Regions from separate parts of the Homo sapiens genome. Here region 1 is linked to region 2. Evidence: fine-mapped expression QTL. Tissue or cell type: whole blood. Region 2 holds a variant in brackets; the other region holds the start of a gene. All regions are shown on one strand. Distances are between the middles of the regions.

Evidence for each region. PIP is the estimated chance that this variant, and not a neighbour inherited with it, causes the effect.
Region 1: CHCHD5 starts here. The variant in region 2 is fine-mapped to the expression of CHCHD5 in whole blood (TOPMed, PIP 0.93).

The regions. Positions count from the first base shown.
Region 1 is chr2:112,579,621-112,588,704 of GRCh38, reverse strand. CHCHD5 (coiled-coil-helix-coiled-coil-helix domain containing 5) reads right to left here and starts at 4,096. Exons shown (of 4, transcript NM_032309.4): 1 at 4,056-4,096; 2 at 2,591-2,731; 3 at 2,340-2,505. The coding sequence starts at 4,057. It overlaps POLR1B (RNA polymerase I subunit B), which reads right to left. Exons shown (of 15, transcript NM_019014.6): 15 at 8,887-9,084. It overlaps LOC101927330 (a long non-coding RNA gene), which reads left to right and starts at 3,433. Exons shown (of 2, transcript XR_923204.3): 1 at 3,433-3,568; 2 at 4,192-5,718. RefSeq lists enhancers at 4,203-4,372, 3,670-4,421, 3,688-4,887 and a silencer at 6,119-6,413.
Region 2 is chr2:112,620,395-112,631,505 of GRCh38, reverse strand. It overlaps the pseudogene RPS20P11. Among named protein-coding and RNA genes, the nearest start is that of SLC20A1-DT, 18 kb to the left of the region's middle. RefSeq lists enhancers at 339-856, 6,887-7,026. The variant A/T (reference allele first, on the strand shown) is at 6,073.

The DNA of each region.
Region 1 (9,084 bases), 42 kb after region 2:
TGGTGAAGTGTCATGGGAGGCAGGGAACGCGCCATTCTGCTATATTTACTGAGCACCTGCCGTGTACCCAGCAGGCAAAACTCTCTGACTCAAGCAGGGAGAGACGGACAATAAATATGTCAACATCCAAGAAATTCGATGAAGAAAATTTAATCAGGGTAAAGAGCAGAGGTGTGTGCGGAATGGGAGGGACATGTACCACTTTGATTGTCAGCCACAAAAACACAGGACATTCTGTAAAGTCTGTATGCCATGCTGCAGGAGATGAGAATGTTTGTGTTCGCTATTGTGTAGACCAGACAACAAATCTCACTGCCCCTAGCTAGGAAGGAAAAACTGTAACTGGGATGCCATCCCCAGGAAGGAGGGGATGATGAGGAGATGTGACCTAATTCCCTTTTTTTTTTTTTTTTGGAAGACAGAGTCTCGCTCTATCGCCCAGGCTAGAGTGCAATGGTGCAATCTTGGCTCACTGCAACCTCTGCCTCCTGGGTTCAAGCAATTCTCCTGCCTCAGCCTCCCAAGTAGCTGGGATTACAGGTACCTGCCACCACACCTGGCTAATATTTGTATTTTTAGTAGAGATGGGGTTTCACCATGTTGGCCAGGCTGGTCTCAAACTCCTGACCTCAGGTGATCCACCCACCTCGGCCTCCCCAAGTGCTGGGATTACAGGCATGTGCCACCGCACCCGGCCCTAATTCCCATTTTTAAAAGCTTCTTTGGCTGCCAGGGAAGAGAAGACTGTCAGGGCAGGGGTGGCCACAAGGAGACCAGAGAGAGGCTGGTTGCTGGTCCAGGGAGGGAAGCAGCAAATGGCTCTAAGATAGGAGGATGGGGTCTTTACTGTTCAGATGCCCAAAAAACTTGAAAGACAGAAATGTCCCCAGCAGCTGACTGAGAACAGTATGTGATCGTTAGGTAACGTTTCCTGAGGAGAATTAAGTTCCTTCCGGCTCTCAGGGGTCGTAGTTTCTGCCCTAGGGGTCTGAACTATTCACTTATCCTTGCCTTACAGAAACAATTAATGCCTATAGGGCCTGGTAAGAAGGGCATCACCCCAATCTTCAGCCAAGAGCTCCCTTGACACAGGCATAGGATGTGAGCCTTGATGGAGGGGCTCAGGGACCTTGGGAACTTGAAGACAGGGGCGGGAAGTGGGTGGGACATCAGGGAGGTTTTCTGAGAGACGTGCCGTCTAAGCTGGAATAGGAATTAGCCAGGAGATGGATTAGGAAGGGCAGTCCCAGCAGAGGGAAACAGCTGGACAAAAGCAGCGGAGACGTGCACTTGAGTAACTGCATGTTCACTGGGGCTGGAACATAGAGCTTAAGGGGGAAAGAGAGGAGAGGTGGGACCACGGGTCGCAGGGACTGCATCCCACAGGGCCCTGTGGGCTGTGCTGGCATTAAGACTTGGGCTGGTGGAATTGAGAACCATGGAAAGGTTTGTAAGTAGAAGCAGAACATGGTCAGATTTCCTCTGAGATCAGTCTAGGATGATCACCAAGAATGACTGGAAAGTCAAGATGGAGCATGGGGCCCAGGAGAAGGATGGCCAGGTGGCCCAAGAGAGAAGCCAGGGCTGCAGGGGCAGAGAGAGGGCCCCAGGAGAGGGTACTCACAGGGGCTGGGGAAAGATGTGACTTTCACCTTTGGAGCTCACAGTCCAGTGAGGAGGGTAGTAAACATCTAAAAGAGCATTTTTCAACCTTTTTCCGTTACTGCCTCTCCTCAAGGAGTCATTTTAGACTTTTGTTCTAATTGCCCAACCATGAAACTTACATATCACAGATATACTGTATATCTGGTTTACATATTAGATACATTTAAAAGAGTGACCTTTTTTTGGCCACCCCAGCCCAGCCCCTCTGCAGTTGCAGATGAGGAGTAGTGAGAAAGAAGAGAGAGGGTGAGGCAGGAGGCAGATGAAGTCAGCCTAGGGAAGAACACAGAGAACCCAGCAAGGACCTGGACTTTTGTTCTCAATGTGACACAAAGCCACTGGAGAGCTTTAAGCATAGGTGTGATGAGACCAGATTTCAGTCCTTACATGCTCACCCAGGCCGCTTTATGGAGGCAAGAAAAGAGGGAGGAAGGGAGACCAGGGAGAAGGCTGGGGCAGGTATCCTGGAGGTGGAGGGTGAGGGTGGTGGTGGATTAAAGCAGGGGCTATATGGGGCAAGAAGTGATGATGTTCTGGATTCTGGATGCATGGCAAAGGCCTGTGTGGTGATGGGGTGGGGCTGAGGATGACTCCAAAGTCTTTACCCTGAACAACCAGAAGGATGAAGGGGATGTTATGGAGAAAAGAGATGAACTGAGGTGAGCCCCTCTTACCTCCACAGTTGCAGGTGAGCGTGGCGGCTGCACCTGCTCAGCGCACTGCAGGAAGCGGCGCATATGCTCTGCACAGTTGCCCACAGCTGCCTCGTTCTGTCGAAGACACTCCTCGAAGGCCTCAAAAGGCTGAGCACAGGCCTGGCGGATCTGGCGGATGATTGGGCTGTGGGGGTAGGGCAGTTCAGCCCCTGGGAGATTCCCACCCCACTGCCCACCCCCCACACTGTCTCATACTTGCCCGCACTCACTGGGAGGATGTGCACTGGGCAATGCTCATCTTAAGGTAGTGACAGTCCCGCTGCCAGGATTCCGGCTTGGCCGCCACACACTGGCCATACTGCTCCAGCTCCCGGCCACAGTAGCGAGCGGTGACCTCTAGGGCCGCCTGCCTGTGGGACAGGATGGGCTGAGGATCATTCCAGGCAGTAGGCAAGCAAGGGAATTCTTTTTTTTTTTTTTATTTTTTAGAGACAGGGTCTCACTGTGGCCCAGGCTGGAGTGCAGTGGCACGATCATAGCTCACTGTAGCCACCAACTCCTGGATTCAAGTGATCTTCCTGCCCCAACCTCCTAAGTAGCTGGGACCACAGGCATGAGCCACCATGCCCAGCTAATTTTTTATGTTTTGTAGAGACAGGGTCTTGCTATGTTGCCGAGGCTGGTATTGAACCCCTGGGCTCAAGCGATCCCCCTGCTTAGACCTCCCAAAGTGCTAGGATTACAGGCATAAGCTATGGTGCTCCGCAAAGAAAGGGAGTTCTGGTCTGGGTCTGAAGTAGGACTAGGAGTTCAGGGCAGATGTGGGAATCTGAAGGATCCTGAGATGGTGCCAAAGAAGTGGAGAGGTGAGGCCCAGCCCTGGGGCTTGTAAAGCAGGAGGGGAGCTTCTGGGGAGAGAGTGGAGGTTCTAAAACAAAGTCTGATTAATGTAAGGTAGGCCTTCAGGGTCCTAGAAGACAGGCCTTGAAATCCAGGCATCCCCCAGTAGGCCTGGGGATCATGCACAGAAGACTTGGGGCCTTAGAAGAAAGATCTAGAATTCCAGGGAGAGCTTGAGAGCCCTTAATGGGTTTGGGGGTTCTAAAAGTGAGGTTTAGAGCTCCAAGAGGTGGGGTCTCAGGTCCTGGGGAAGAGTGTCTTAGCCAAAGAGTCTTCAAGATGAAACCTAAGGCCCTGGTGCGGGACTCAAGGTCCCAGGGGCGTGAAGTCTGGAAGCCCTGGATGAGGTTGGTGCTCTGGGAATCCTGGGCAAGGTCAGAGTGGTCTAGGAACAAGTCTGTGGACCCTATAGGTGAGGACTGGGGTCCCAGGCAGATCTGGAAGGTTCAAAAGGTAAAGTTTGGTGATCAAGGGGGAGGAACCTGGAGCTCTGAGGATGGGTGTAGGAGTCATAGAGGTCCCTAAATAAGTCTGTAGTCTTAGGATTTCAGTGTGAAGGCCGGACCTGGGGTACTGGGGGCAGAGATTGGGTGAAGAGTGACTGGACCGAAGTCCTAAGCAGCGCGAGAGGGGGCGAGGCCTAAACGCTTAGAGGGCGGGGCTTGGGCATGCGGAGGGTTGGAGCTCGTGAGCGAAGGCGCTGAATCCTGAGGGTCAGATCTCCAAGAAGGAGGGAGGCTGGTCCTAGTTCCCGAGGTCCTAGACTAGGTCTAGATCACTGGGTAAAAGAAGGGGAGCGGCAGCACGTATGGGGTAGGCGCTCTCACTACTCACATCTCGAGACCTTTGCCGGCGTAGGGCTGTCCGGGGGGAACGACCCGCCTTTTCCGGTATCGGTTGTCATGGCGGCGCCCAGCCCAGCCTGGTTTTTTCCGGTAGCCAATTGAACTAACAACCCCGTTCCCTTTAGGACTAATCTGTCACGGCGGCGCCCTACCTCTTCTTCCGGCCCGGCTCGTCATGGCGGCGCCCTGAGTAGCCACTTCCGCCCTCTTCTGGCTAAATTGCTTCATCCCTATTTCCGGCTTGCCATGGCAGCGCTCGGGGTTTAACGGAAGTAAGCAATGGAAAGTATGGTGGTGCCTCGGGTCCAAAGAGAATGCGCCGCTGAGTTGCGCGGCACCTGACGGGATTGAGCCTCAGACACAAGCGCTCCAAATCTCCGACTGTAGCTGGTGGGAAGCGCCTGCTGTTGCTGCAGCGTCTCAACATGTTGTTCCCATTTTCGTTGGGTGCTGTAGCGGTAGGCTGTTGGGCTCAGGGATAGGGGGCCTGATTCCTAACGCCGCGCTGCCACCATCGGCCTTGCGCAGACGCTGATAATCCCCCTGGCACCCAGGTTCATGCGAGCGCTTGGAACAGGAGGGAAGAGGGAGTCAAACCAAGAGCCGAACTAATTCGGCTTGGGCCTGCCATTTACCCAGCCTGGGACCCAGACGTTTCCCCATCCCTTAGCGTACGCCAGGACAGACATGGCGTTTAATCCTGACTCCATGAGACTATCAAGCTAGTTACTTCCTCTCTTTGTAATTAATTCCTCCTAATGTAGCAACATTTCCCCCTTCCTTCTCATCTGTCTTAAAAGTGTGAGGTTAGACCTGGGCGTGAGTTTCCCCACATAAGAGACTGGATATCCCCTGGTCAGAGAACTGAGCATCAGTCCTGCCGTTTCGTTTGCAGATCTTTCAAGACTCTAGTCAAAATGAGCAGAACATTTTGCAGTTAATCATAGAGTTGAAGATGAACGAGAAGATGAACGAGAGCTACTTGATTGTGAACTAGTAACGACCACTTGGAGTCGCAGTGTGTCTGTAAAATGATGATGACAGTGACATCATAGAGGACATAGTGCAAGTGAACAGTTTGATACTGAGCTTGGAGCCTCAGTAGTTCTGGATAAGTGAGAGCTGTACGGGAGGTTGTAACCATGAGCTACCCTGGTTGGCAGTTGACATCCGAGGACCAGCACTGGTCATCGCACAGAAAGAAAACTTTACACCTTGAGATCCCTCCATTCTTCTTAAACTTCCAAGTGTATGTTTGATGGGAGAAGAGGGGAAGGGATCAACATTTAAAGGCTCTGGAAGGAGTCAGATAACTGTTTTTGGCTTCAAATGTAGAATGAATCCCTAGATTTTCCTCTACTGAGAGAATGAAATCTTAACCCATTCCGTTCCCTTGTTGGTACTCAGAAACGGATACCCCAAAGATGCATTTTGACATGCTGAAAGGCCTTAGAAGCTGCCTTAGAAGATCTGTCTAACCTTGTCTTGTTGGTGTGTGGAAGTGGGAATGCCCACAGGTGCACAGGGAGGGAGTTTCTGAAATTATCTGACCGAGAAAGCAAAAAAAAAAAATCAATTGTCTTAAACCCGGTTTCTAGGGATCTCATTAAAGAACTAGGAAAAATTAACCACCTGTTAACAGAAAAACCAAACTGAAATGTTTTAAAGAGATTTATTTTGAGCCAATATGAGTGACCATGGCCTGGGGAACACAGGCTCAAGAGGTCCTGAGAAAGTGTGCCTGAGACAGTAGAATTACAGTTTGGTTTTGTACATTTTAGGTGGACAGGAGTTACAGACAAAGACATAAATCAGTACATGGAAGGTACAGATTGTGTTCAGCTGGGTGCAGTGGCTCACGCCTGTAATCCCAGCACTTTGGGAGGTCGAGGTGGGCGAATCGCTTGAGGTCAGGAGTTCGAGACCAGCCTGGCTAACATGGTGAAACCGTGTCTCTACAAAAAATACAAAAAATTAGCCAGGGATGGTGGCAGGCACCTGTAGTCCTGGAGCTACTCAGGAGGTTGAGGCACGAGAATTGCTGCGGAGGTTGTAGTGAGCCGAGACCACACCACTGCACTCCAGCCTGGGTGACAGAGCATGACTCTGTCTCAAAAAAAAAAAAAAAATTCTACGGTATTTTTATAATACATTTTGTAGTACCACTTATAACCACTTGGGTGCGTGGGTTGCCCATTAAATCAAACAGTTTACAGTTCACCCTTGAACAACATGGATTTAAACTGTACTGGTCCACTTATACTCAGATTTTCTTCTGCCGCTGTCACTCTGAGACAGCAAGACCAACCCCCCTTCCTCTCCTCAGCCTACTCAATGTGAAAAGGACAAGGATGAAGGCCTTTATGATGATCCACTTCCACTTAATGAATAGTATATTTTATCTTCCTTACGATTTCCTTAATAACAGTTTCTTCTCTCTACTTTACTATTGCAAGAATACAGTATATAATGCATATAACATACAAAATATGTGTTCATCTATGTCATCAGTAAGACTTCAGATCGACAGTAGGCTATTAATAGTTAAGTTTTGGGGGAGTCAAAAGTTATATGTGGATTTTCTACTGCATTGTTTAAGGGTCAACTGTAGATTCAACGACTACCTAGGATTGTAGAGTTGACTGATAGCACTGGGACTGATGATAACATCATAACCTGTAAGAAGTGTCAACAATGGTGATGGACCCCCAGCAACCCTGGAGTGGGGATGTCTAAAGATAGATGTCATCCACCAGGCAGGAGTTGGTGCTGCCAGTGTGTCATGTACTGCAGCCTCTTTTATTTATTTATTTATTTTTATTTATTTTTTGAGACAGCATCTCGCTTTGTCACCCAGGCTGGAATGCAGTGGCACAATCTCGGCTTACTGCAACCTCCACCTCCCGGGTTCAAGCGATTCTTCTGCCTCAGCCTCCCAAATAGCTGGGACTACAGGTGCGCACCACCACGCCAGGCTAATTTTTGTATTTTTAGTAGAGACGGGGTTCCATCATATTGGCCAGGCTGGTCTCAAAGTCCTGACCTCGTGATCCGCCCATGTCGGCCTCCCAAAGTGCTGAGATTACAGGTATGAGCCACAGCGCCTGGCCTGCAGTCCCTTTTACTACAACAAATATGGGAAAGAGTCACAGGTGTGGCATACGGTGGTGGCTTCTGCGTTAGAAACATAGGCCAAGTACAGTGGCTCATGCCTATAAATCTCAGCACTTTGGGAAACTGAGGTGGCCAGACTGCTTGAGCCCAGGAGTTTGAGATCAGCCTGGGCAACATGGCGAAATTCTGTCTCTACAAAAAGTACAAAAGTTACCCGGGTGTGGTGATGTCATAGGTAGTAGATTTATCCTTCAAACATCAACAACTAAAAAATCTGGACAAAATAGGAGACAACAGAGTTCAGACATTGGAAACAAGCATTGTAGCACAGTGGTCCCCAAGAGAAAGGAGACAAATGAAGTGACCTTAGTGGCCCGGCTTATGTCTGGAGAGTTAGTTTCTAGGCTACATAGCCCAGGGGTGTCCCTGAGTTGGGACAAAGTTGAGAATTTGGAGAGGCCAAGGCAGCTAGTTTGTAAGGCAGGGTACCAGAGAGTAGCGCAGCACAGACCTGCAAAGGGTTTCCTGCACGTGTAGCGCACAGCATGCCTGTGAACACACTCCTGGAAACCAAGGGAACTACCAGGAAGGTGCAGGCAGAGCAATCCCCGGAGCCATAGTGGAGACCATCACTGTGCACTGGCTAAACTACTCAAAGATACTGCCTGTCTAGTGAGGCAAAATTAGCCCTAATGGCCGCTCTGGTCTCACCTAAGTAAGCTCAGAAACACTGAAGCAAGCTCTCAGTTCGAAGGAAAATGGAAATCTGGCATATGAAATCAAGATCTCCAGATACAGTAAATATAACTCTTATGACAAAATAGCACAAAGGCCAAGAGACAGGAAAGTGTGTGCTGTTGCTAAGTTGTTCTACTACCTGTGAAGTGGTAGAATATTACATAAAAGTGTGACAAGTCTAAAGATGTACACTAGAAATTTTAAGAGAAACAACAAAAAATGAAAATGGAGGTAGGGTTAATAAGCCAACAAAGGAGATAAAAATGAAATAATACAAAATAAATTAGCCCCGCACAAGTATGGCCATCTGATTTAAACCCTGTCACTCCAGCTGGAGTGCAGTGGCGTGATCACGGCTCACTGCAGCCTCGACTCCCAGGCTTAGACGATACTCCCACCTCAGCCTCCTGGGGAGCTGGGACTACAGGTGCACACCACCATGCCTGGCTAATTTTTTTAGTAGAGATGGGGTCTGGCTGTGTTGCCCAGGCTGGTCTCAAACTCCTGGGCTCAAGCAATCATCCCACTTCAGCTTCTCAAAGTGCAGGGATTACAGGCGTGAGCCAGTGCACCCGGCCTATGGCCATCTGATTTTTGACAGAAGTGCAGAAGTAATTCAATAGAGAAAGGATCGTTTTCAAGTAACAGTCCTGGAGCAATTGGATATCTATTGGCAAAAAAAAAAAAAAAAAAAAAAAAAAAAATCTTGATCTAAACCTTACACTTTGTACAAAAATGAACTCTTAAGTGGAAAATGGATCATAGATTTAAATATAAAGCATAAAACTATAAAACCTTTAGAAAATAACATATGAGAAAATCTTTGGGCTAGGTGAAGAGTTCTTAGACACAACACCAAAAACCTGTCAATTGGGCTTCATCAAAATTTAAATTTGTTTCTCTGCAAAATACCTGTGAAGAGGATGAAAAGACAAACTATGAACTGGGAGAAAATATTTGCAAAGCACTTGTATGACAAAGGCTTTATATCTGGAATATATAATGAAGTCTTGAAATTCAACAGTAAGAAGACAAACAATCCAATTAAAAAATGAACAGCAGACATTTCACTGAAGATACACAGATGGCAAATAAACACATGAAGAGATGTTCAACATTTTCAGCCATTAGAGAAATGCAAATTAAAGCCACAATGAGATATCACT
Region 2 (11,111 bases):
TGGTAATGTCAGATGTATTTCTTACTGAGATTTTAAAAGTTAAACTTTAAACGTTTAAAGGAAAACATCTGTTCATCAAATATTAAGTATGATCAGAAACTGTATCTTGTTCTAGGGTAAAGAAAAGAGCAAGACTTGGCTCCTTCACTTAGGAAGCTGTGAATCTGGGGGCGAAAAGACAAACATACCGCTAGGACAGGATGTGAAAACCACACTGACAAAGTGGCGTCAGGGTGCCTGGAGTTGGGAGGAGGAGCCAGCACCTTCCAGGAACCCCAGTGCCCCTGGAGGAGGTGGTGTGTGGGCTGGTCCTGAAGCGGGCTGCAGGAGGAAGCGTGTTCTCGGAGGGGATGGGGGCGTGGATGGACAGCTGTAGCCTGGTGTGGGAATCCAGGGCAAGGGGCTGCTGGACCAGGCTTGGGCAGAGGTGCCAGGAGGGACACAGGGGCAATGATGACAGGGAGGAAACGATCAAAGCGGACCAGATATTGACTTTATCTTGTGGGAGATGTGGGAGATATATATGTGTGTGTGTGTGTATACACCACACACACACACACACACACACACACACACACACACACAGTGGCACAATCTCAGCTCACTGCAACCTCCGCCTTCCAGATTCAAGCAATTCTGCTGCCTCAGCCTCTCCCGAGTAGCTGGGATTACAGGCACCTGCCACTATACCCGGCTAATTTTTGTACTTTTAGTAGAGGCAGGGTTTCACCATGTTGGCCAGGCAGGTCAGACATGTGTGATATTTTTTGTTGTTTCAAAAGGGGATGACAATGGGAGGCAGCGACTTGAGGGCCAAATGTTGCATTTGTCCTCGTTTCAAGGATTTTTTGGGTTTATCTGAACATTCGTCCTGATTAAAACTTAGGATGCCGTGAAGCAGTGGTCTGATAGGAATTCTCCATGTTTTCATTTTGTTCATGTTTCCTGCTTGCCCTCCAGCTAGACCCAGCGTTGGTATGTGGCCACCTTCCTTTCCCACAAAGCCTTTTTGCTTTCCTATTTTTTCTCATTATCCCCACTGTGCACCAACTCCAGCTGCGGAAGGGACCCAGAAGGGGAGAAGTGTTTTCTTCTAACACCTCTCCTCACCCCTGGGGGCTACAGGCAAGCTGGCTTTAGAAAGAGACAGCAGGGCTGAGAACTTGCTTTTCAGCTCAGCAAACAGGGAGTGGCTTAGAAAGTAGAGACAAAAGAGAAAAGCAAAAACAACTAAAGGAGCAAACGTTTTGTGCAAAAACATTTTTTAGTCGCAGATCCAGAATATAGAGTCTGCCTTCTCCTAGGTAATCTCTTGGAGCCCAGTAATTGAAAGGGGTGGCAAATATCCAATATCTAAATGTAGCTGTCTAAGGGCTAAAGTTAGGGACTGGAATTTACCAACCTCACCCCAGCCTCATTGTGGACTTCTTCCTTCCATGATGTTCGCCTTGACTTGGAACTCTTATATTAAGAGTCATCCAGCAGCGTGACGGACGTCCTTCTGTGTTGTTCGTTCCCATGCAGAAGCCGGTCTCCTTTGCTCTTAACACGCCAAGCCCCTTTTAACCCTTTGCCCCAAGTGTCTTCTGCTCTCCGGAATTCTCTGTCTCCTTTTCTATACCTACCTAAAATCCTATATCCTCCAAGAAAGCAGCCCACACAGAGTGCCCAGAATTCCTAAAATCTTTTTGGTCTTTAAATCTTTTTGTTTTGTTTTGTTTTTGAGACAGAGTCTCGCACTGTTACCAGGGCTGGAGTGCAGTGGTGTGATCTTGGCTCACTGCAACTTCTGCCACCTGGGTTCAAGAGATTCTCCTGCCTCAGCCTCCCGAGTAGCTGGGATTACAGGCACCCGCCATCATGCCCAGCTCATTTTTTGAATTTTTAGTAGAAACAGCGTTTCACCATGTTGGCCAGACTGGTCTCGAACTCCTGACCTTGTGATCCAGCCACCTCGGCCTCCCAAAATGCTGGAATTACAGGCGTAAGCCACCATGCTCGGCCTGGTCTTTAAATCTTTATGAATCATAAAGGAATTATTCATTCCCTTATGTATAACCTCAGGATGTTAAATGTTTGTCACTGAGATTTTAAGTGTTGTAGATTCTTGGAACTCAGAGACACTAAATCATCCTTCTGTGCCTGGCTCAGAGCTGAGGATGTAATAGGATTTCGGAATTGAGATCTAATATAAATCTGGTGCAAAATCTGAGTTCAAGTCCCTGGGAGCTTGGGAGCTTCCTTTGCCTCCTTCCTAAAGGGCAATTCCCCTTTTGTAAAACTAGACTAGTCATCGTACCTACCATTTAGGGATGCTGCAAGGGTTAAACTAGAAAAAGTTTAACATGTTACTGGGATTAGTTATTTTTACTACAAAGTGGTAAGATAGAAGTCAAAGGGTACATTTTATTTGCTTGTTTCTGCTTGTGTTCAACTTTAGCGTTTTCCCTGTCCTTGTGAGTTTTATTTGTATTTATTTTTGAGATGTGAAATATTAAAATGATTTTAAAAGTCAGTTCAGAACAAAAAGAGGATCGGGTGCGGTAGCTCACACCTGTAATCCCAGCACTTTGGGAGATGGAGGCAGGAGGATAGCTGGAGCCCAGGAGTTCAAGACCAGCTGGGCAACATAAGGAACCCACATCTCTGCTAAAAATAAAATAAAATAAACAAAAAGAGATATTCCTAGAAGTCTCATTCCCCCTCATTCCCTTTATTTCCATCCTGTTCCTACCATGCCCTGCAGGTAGCTAATCTCATCCATCTCTGTTTTTTTCTTTTTCTGTTTCTTTTTCCTTGAACAAATAGGTAAATGTGGCCGGCCTGGTGGCTCACGCCTGTAATCCCAGCATTTTGGGAGGCCAAGGCAGGTGGATCACGAGGTCAGGAGATCAAGACCATCCTGGCTAACACAGTGAAACCCCTCTCCACTAAAAATACAAAAAATTAGCCGGGCATGGTGGCGGGCACCTATAGTCCCAGCTACTCGGGAGGCTGAGTCAGGAGAATGGCATGAACCCGGGAAGCGGAGCTTGAAGTGAGCCGAGATCACACCATGGCACTCCAGCCTGGGCAATAGAGCGAGACTCCGTCTCAAAAAAAAAAAAAAAAAAAAAAAAACTAAATGTTCTGTTTCCTCCTCTCAAAGGTATACTTGAGACAATGTCCTTTCGAGACCAGTTTTTCAGGACTCTGGCCATCTTTTGCACATGTTGGTTGGGAGGTTGGGAGGTGCTAGGCGGGCAGGAGCTCTGTGACAGTGGCCTTAGTTGTGTCCTAATCCTCCCCTCATTCTTCACATGACTAGCTATATCATAAATACTTACCCCAGGTCCCAAAGGTGTCTCTATGATTGGTAATGGGGCCACAACCCAGTTCCTGCTACCCAGGAGACTGAGGTTCAGGTTTCCTGCCCTAGTGAAGCATCCCCATCAAGCTCAGCATGGCCTGCTGATTCTCCTGGAGATGGAGGCAATTCAGGTACAAGCCTGGATTTCTGAAGAACCACTCTTGGTGCTTGCAGAGCCACGACAAGTACCAGCCACACTCCTGCAACCTTCACACCTTATGAGAAAACAGCACTTTATGCTTCTAATCTATCTATCTATCCATCCATCCATCTATCTATCTATCTATCTATCTATCTATCTATCTATCTATCTATCTATCTATCTATTTTTTTTAAATGAGATCTGAAGAATCAAGGCCAAAAGACCCCTGGGTGTTTCTCTGTAGGACCTCTTTTTAAGGAGGGAAAAACCTGAGTAAATTAAAGTTCGCAGCCCTAGGGCGGTGGCCCAAGGCAGTGGAGGCCCACCGCTGGAGGTATTCATTGGAAAAAGCAGTGGGAGTGGAGAATTCTGTCTCGGAGTAAGCTGTCCACAAGTCTGCTCGGAGGCTGTGACTCACTCTGAGGAAAAGGAGTGCCCTGTATTCTGGAGGAGGCTGCTTTCTCCAAACAGGAGATCTGTGGCCAAGGAAGGAAATGAAGCAATCCAAGACTGATCAGCAGCCGTGGGGCAGGCAGAGCTAGACGTCCACACCACCCCCAACTCTTTGTGCTTAATATTTGCCCTGTGCCCCCAAGGAATAAACAGCACTACAGAACTGGATTCTGGTGAGAAGGGAATCAGGCCCTATCTTGGGCCCTCTCTGGACCTTTGTTTGCCCATCTCGAAGGTTAAGGGGTGAACTGGACAGGGAGGAAACTGGCAGCCAACTCATGTCCCAACTCAGCCTGTGGCTGCATTTTATCTTACTCACAGTTAGAAAAACAATTCAATTTAGGTGCCTTTGCACAAGGCTCTTTTCTCCAGTTCGGCATAGCCACTACCATTTCCTGCCATCTTACCCTAAGTCAGCTTCACAAATTCAGGCTCCCTGCCTGCCCTTTGAAGTTATTTGAAATGGCAACTCCAGCACTAGCAGCAACCAAGTCCCTTCCAGCTCTGGGGTCCCTCCCGAGGATTCTATGCCTCGGAGAAACAGGGAGTAGAAGCAGGGTGAGCAGGCTGCTCTGGAATGAGAAGGAGATGATCCTTAGTCTCAGGATGCTACAGAGGGTGAGTGTGGCAGCATGCCAGGGCCGAGCATCTGCCAGGCAGCACCATCACGGCTTAGGGAGAACTCAAAAACAGCCTTTTTTTACAGCCTCCTGGTGCATCCTGTTTCTCTGGTGCTGCTGCCACCAGCAAGTGGGCACCATGCCCACCCTGCAGTGGGCAGTGAGGGGGCTAGGTGCCCATCTGTCCCGTCTCCTAAGCAGGTGCTGGGAAGATGGCGCCTGAGCTCAGGCTGCCCTCTGCTGGGTGAGCATAGAAGCTGCTGTGGGGTCTGAGACCACAGAAAATCCCACAGGGGAAGGAGGCACCCCCTCTCAGATTCTCCACATTCGTGAGGTGGGAATGGCTTGATTGTGGGCTGCTGCATCCCTGCCGCCTTCCAAAGAAGACTCAGTCTCTAGGAAGGTAGTCTCAGGTCCTGTAAGTCTGCATTTAATTAAAATCCCTTTCTTTTTTCTTTTTTGTTTTGAGACAGAATCTCGCTCTGTCACCCAGGCTGGAGTGCAGTGGTGCAATTTCAGCTCACTGCAACTTCCGCCTCCTGGGTTCAAGTGATTCTCCTGCCTCAGCCTCCGGAGTAGCTGGGACTACAGGCACCAGCCACCATGCCCAGCTAATTTTTGTGTTTTTCCTAGAGACAGGGTTTTACTACGTTGGCCAGGCTGGTTTTGAACTCCTGACCTCAGGCGATCTGCCAATATCAGCCTCCCAAAGTGCTGGGATTATAGGCATGAGCCACCGTGCCTGGCCCCAAAATCCCTTTTCTGACATAGGGCCTAGCACGACGATGTGCTCAGTGAATATATATTGAATAAATAACTAGGCCAGCGGTTACCTACGGTAGAAACTGCTTCTGTCTTGTTTGGAAGGGCAACTTTATTGTTTTTCTTCCTCAACTTCCTCTAACAGACGCTAACCCCTAATGTCTACTCGGGGTCCTGCCTGGCTCTCCCAATTCCAAGCTGGTGCTCTGGCCTGGGCATCTTCCTCCAGGCTCCCCGGGGCATGGCTTCTCCTAGTTCCTCAGCCCCAACCCAGGTTCCTGCTGAGATGAGCACAAATCCCCCTTTTCTCTCATCATTTCCTTCTGCCTTCCCTTTGAACACCTGGATTCTTGTTCCACCTTGAGCTCACTGGACTTAGAGATATTCTCTCCTTCCTGAGGCAGCCACAGGGTGTTTCTAGCCCACTTCACTATTAACTGTTGTTACTTGACACATGGGCACGTGTCCATGGGGTGGGGTGGGCAGCAGGAAGGGCTGGGAACTTCTGGTTTCTAGGAGGGAACTCTGGGGCCCCCCTAGGGTTGTCCTGGGATAGGACCAGGCCCAGTTTGGGGCTGGGGTAGGGCTGCATGAGACTGAGCTGAATGCCCCATCAAAGATGAACGTTTCTTCAAGCATATTTCAGGCGTTCTCACTTAGCTCTACACAATGATCTCACCAGATTTGGGGAGGGGGAATGGGGCTCCCTCAGGTTTTTCCTATTATACCTATTTCTCTTCCAATTT[A/T]TATTTCCTAATCAACAATAGAGATCTGTTTTTGATTAGCTAGATGAGATACATAGGAAAAATTCGGCTGGGCGCTGTGGCTCACACCTGTAATCCCAGCACTTTGGGAGGCTGAGTCGGGTGGATCACAAGGTCAAGAGTTCAAGACCAGCCTGGCCAACATGGCCAACATGGTGAAACCCTCCCCCACTCCCGCCCTGTCCCTACTAAAAATACAAAAATGAGCCGGGCATGGTGATGCATGCCTGTAATCTCAGCTACTCGGGAGGCTGAGACAGGAGAATTGCTTGAACCCCGGAGGCAGAGGTTGCAGTGAGCCAAGATTGCGCCAGTGCACTCCAGCCTGGGTGACACAGCAAGACTCCATCTCAAAAAAAAAAAAAAAAAAAGGAAAAATTCAAAGAGCTATAGAGTCAGTAAAAAGTTTTAGTTGCCCCACCCATTCCTCCATTTCCCTTGCCCAGAGACAGTCTGCTGCCATTTTCTTGTGGATCCTTCTAGAAACAGTATCATGAACATAGTTATATGTATATAGGCATGCATTCAGTCAGTATTTGAACACCTGCTATGATTCAGTTACTGTTCTTCTATAAAACATATAAAAATCCTTGTTCTAGAGAACCTATATTCTAACAGGAGGCAAGGAGTCAGAGAATAAATGAGGTAAATCAAATATATGACATGTTAGATGTTGATACATGCAATGGAAAAAACTTACACAGGGTAGGTGAGTTGGGGTGTGGTCCCGAGTGCCTTTCCCCTGGGCTGCCTCTCCTCACCCTGAGAAACCTGGGGCCACACAGCTGGTGCAGCTCTCAATTCTGGTTTCTCACACGCAGGAACCCCACCCTGCCCTGGTGAGTCACGCCTTCACTTGGCTTCCTGATGTTGGAGGGCAGGCCTCCCTTACTGCCTCAAGGCTGTTCATCATCTTCAGCTTATATCCTGGGTCAACGTTGATGACTACTTTGCTGGCTTTAATTAAGTGGTCTATGGGCCAGGAGAATAAGGATCAACATCATCTGGGGACTTGTCAGAAATGCAAATTCTCAGGCCCCACCCCAATACTACTGGATCAGAAACTCTAGGTTGGGGTCCAGCAATCTGCGTGGTTTTTGTTTTAGTTGATGTTATTGTTTTAGAGACAGGGTCTTGCTAGGCCGCCCAGGCTGGAGTGCAGTGGCTATTCACAGGCACAATCATAGCATGCTGTAGCCTCAAACTCCAGGGCTCAAAAGATCCTTCTGCCTCAGCCTCCCAAGTAGCTAGGACTACAGGCGCACCCTACTGCGCCCAGCTGAGCAATCTGTGTTTTAAAAAGCCTTCCGGATAGCTCTGATGCATGATAAAGCTTTTATGAACCTCTGCTCTGCGGAAATGCCTTACCATCTCACATGCCTACCAGCTATGGTCATAAGCACACATTTTATATAATCGTACCAAGTTTTGAAAAATCTTTTCCAAGTTAAATCCTAGACAGGTGTACAAATTATATGTTAAGAAGTAACAGATAAATCTTACAGCCCAATTATTTGAAAATAAGAATCAAGTCATTTGAGTCTGGGCCTTCGAAATTTGACATGTAAGAATATTCATAGAAAATTGACTTAGTCCTAAATTCTTATCCCTAAATCCTGTTTTGTTTTGTTTTTTAATTTTTTTTTAAATTTTTTTTGGTTTTTTTTTTTTGAGTCAGAGTCTCGCTCTGTCGCCCAGGCTGGAGTGCAATGGCACAATCTCAGCTCACTGCAACCTCTGCCTCCCGGGTTCAAGCAATTCTCCTCGCACCTCAGCCTTTTGAGTAGCTGGGATTACAGGCGCCCGCCATCATGCCCGGCTAATTTTTGCATTTTTAGTAGAGATAGAGTTTCACCATATTGGCCAGGCTGGTCTCGAACTCCTGACCTCATGATCTGCCCACCTAGGCCTCCCCAAGTGCTGGGATTACAGGTGTGAACCACTGCACCCAGCCCCAAATCCTGTTATCTAAAAGATGACAAAATTTGAGCCTAGGCAACATATCAAGACCCCATCTCTACAAATTTTTTTTAAGAAATAGCCAGGTGGCTGGGCGTGGTGCCTCACCCTGTAATCCCAGTACTTTGGGAGGCAAAGGTGGGTGGATTACGAGGTCAGGAGTTCAAGACCAGCCTGACCAATATACTAAAAATACAAAAATTAGCTGAGCATGGTGGCACACGCCTGTAGTCCCAGCTGCTTGGGAGGTTGAGGCAGGAGAATCACTTGGACCTGGGAAGTGGAGGTTGCAGTGAGCCGAGATCAAGCCACCGCACTCCAGCCTGGGTGACAGAGCGAGACTCCGTCTCAAAAAAAAAAAAAAAAAAAAGAAAAGAAAAGAGAAAAGAAATAGTAAGGCATGGTGGTGCATGCTTATAGTCCCAGCTACTCAGAAAGCTGAGGCAGGAAAATCACTTGAGCCCAGAGGTTCAAGCCTTCAGTGAGCTATGACTGCCACTGCATTCCATCCTGGGCAGCAAAGAGAGTCTCTGTCTCTACTGAAAAAAAAAAAAAAAAAAAAGAAAAGAAAAGAAAAAAAAAAGAAAAGAAAAAATTTGGAAATAAATTAAAAGTGCATAAAAGTTATTAAAATACTGCTAAATAGTAATAGATAATTTATCTTCCTCTTTACACTCTGCAGAAGAAACGGTGAATGGTACTTATTAGGCAATGTGTAAAGCACTTGACGTGTGTAATCTTATCACATCTGCACAAATGACACACGATCCAAAGAACATTTTTGGCTCCAACTTACAGATGAGTAAGCAAGCTCAGGGAGGATCTTTCCTGATAGATATTTAGCAGCAGAGAGGGCCAGGAATTGGGTTCTGTAATCTCAGTCTGTGCTCATTTTACTGGAAGCCACATGTGTAGATACTGGTATTATCTGAGCCTAATCCCTGGAATCTCTATGGTCAATTGGAGAGAGGCTTAGGGAGGTCAGGGGATAGACAGGTCTTGGCCAGAGTCCACCTCACAGTGGGTCAGGTAGGATCCCAGGCACACCGTGTGGCTATTTTGCCAGCCTTGCTGTCCTTATCCGAGGAATGCGGTCTGTCATGGTGGGAATGCCCAGTTAGAATCCTTGAAAGGGCCACCTACAACCAAGATAATAACCTAAAAACAATTCTGTGGAGGAAGACGCGGTCGTAGGTGCTGAGGATTTCTCGTTCAGACGCTCCTGCTCCTGACTTACCGCTGTTCACTCTCGCCGAGGAACAAGTCGGTCAGGAAGCCGCGCAGCAGCCTTGGCTTTTAAGGATACCGGAAAACACCCGTGGAGCCGGAGGTGGCCATTCACCAAATTCGAATCACCCTAACAAGCCGCAATGTAAAATCCCTGGAAAAGGTGTGTGATGACTTAATCAGAGGCGCAAAGGAAAAGAATCTCAAAGTGAAAGGACCAGTTCGAATGCCTGCCAAGACTTTGAGAATCACTACAAGAAAAACTACTTGTGGTGAAGATTCTAAGACCTGGGATCATTTCCAGATGAGAATTCACAAGCGACTCATTGACTTGCACAGTCCTTCTGAGATTGTTAAGCAGATTACTTCCATCAGTATTGAGCCAGGAGTTGAGGTGGAAGTTACCATTGCAGATGCTTAAGTCAACTATTTTAATAAATTGATTACCAGTTGTTAAAAAAAAAACAATTCTGTGCCTGATGACATTGCAGAAATTAGTTCCATAAAGATTTGAAAGATGCAGGGCTACTGATTTCCATAACACCATTATTACCTCACCTATTTGGTCAGTGCAAGAGGCAAATGTTGGTGGAGAATGAAGGTGGATTAACACAAACATATTCATGGGTTTGCTTATCCCGCCCACAGCACTTCCTCCAGCACCATATATTCATAGATTTACAAATGCTTATTCAATTGCAATGATGTCTTACATACAAATTATTTGTCCATGGGCATGTTTTCATGATAAAAGATGTTAAGCTATGGGCCATGGCTATGGAGTTCCTGCTTACTACATGCCACATCTCCTAGCAGCAGGCAGCTTCACAGAAGGTAGTGGAAAGACCTGCCGCAGCCTTAATTATGGTGGCAGTGTGGGCTCCACATCTACGACTTTACAATGTGTAGTGAACCTTTGGATACCTCTCAGAATTTCCCATCAGGACCTAAGCAGTGATTCCATGAGCTGCTAGAGTATGGACTGCTAATGATTCACAGGTGAAACCTCTTCCAAGAATGTCCTTGGCCCACAGGAACAGTCTTACCCAAGGTCATGCACCCTTCCCAGTGTAGGGACACACAGCCTGTTCTAAGGATATGTAATACTTCTGTCCATAATGGCAAGTGATGTTGCCTTTGGAAAAATGCTACAGTGAGAACAGCATTAGTGGGATGAGAGCACATCCAGGACCCACTGGGCTCCCTGAGCCCAGCCATGTGGTGTGGGTGAAGCAGTACAGGCGGGGAAAAGACCACTGCACTGAGGAAAAGAGCTGGCAGGGTCCAGCGTGCTTAAGAACAGTGTCCAGGCCAGGCACAGTGGCTCATGCCTGTAATCGCAGCACTTTGGGAGGCCGAGGCGGGCAGATCACGAGGTCAAGAGATCAAGATCATCCTGGGCCACATGGTGAAACCTCATCTCTATTAAAAATACAAAAATTAGCTGGGCATTGTGGCGTGTGCCTGTAGTCCCAGCTACTCGGGAGGCTGAGGCAGGAGAATCGCTTGAACCCGGGAGGTGGAGGTTGCAGTGAGCCAAGATCAAGTCCCTGCACTCCAGCCTGGCATCAGAGTGAGACTCCATCTTAAAAAAAAAAAAAAAAAAGCAGTGTCCGGCAGACTGTACAGACTGCACTCTGCTCAGGCCAGTTAGCTCTAATGATCCTTTTCAGCTACAAGTGCCAGTGACTGGCTACTCTGTAGAATGGGGTCATCAGGCATCAAAAGAGTCACATAATGGCATTACAAGATGGCCAGACATCCCTTGATCCCAGAGGAACATTTTGTGCCAGCACCTCCAGCTTCATGGAGGCATTGATACACCAAGTCCCTGA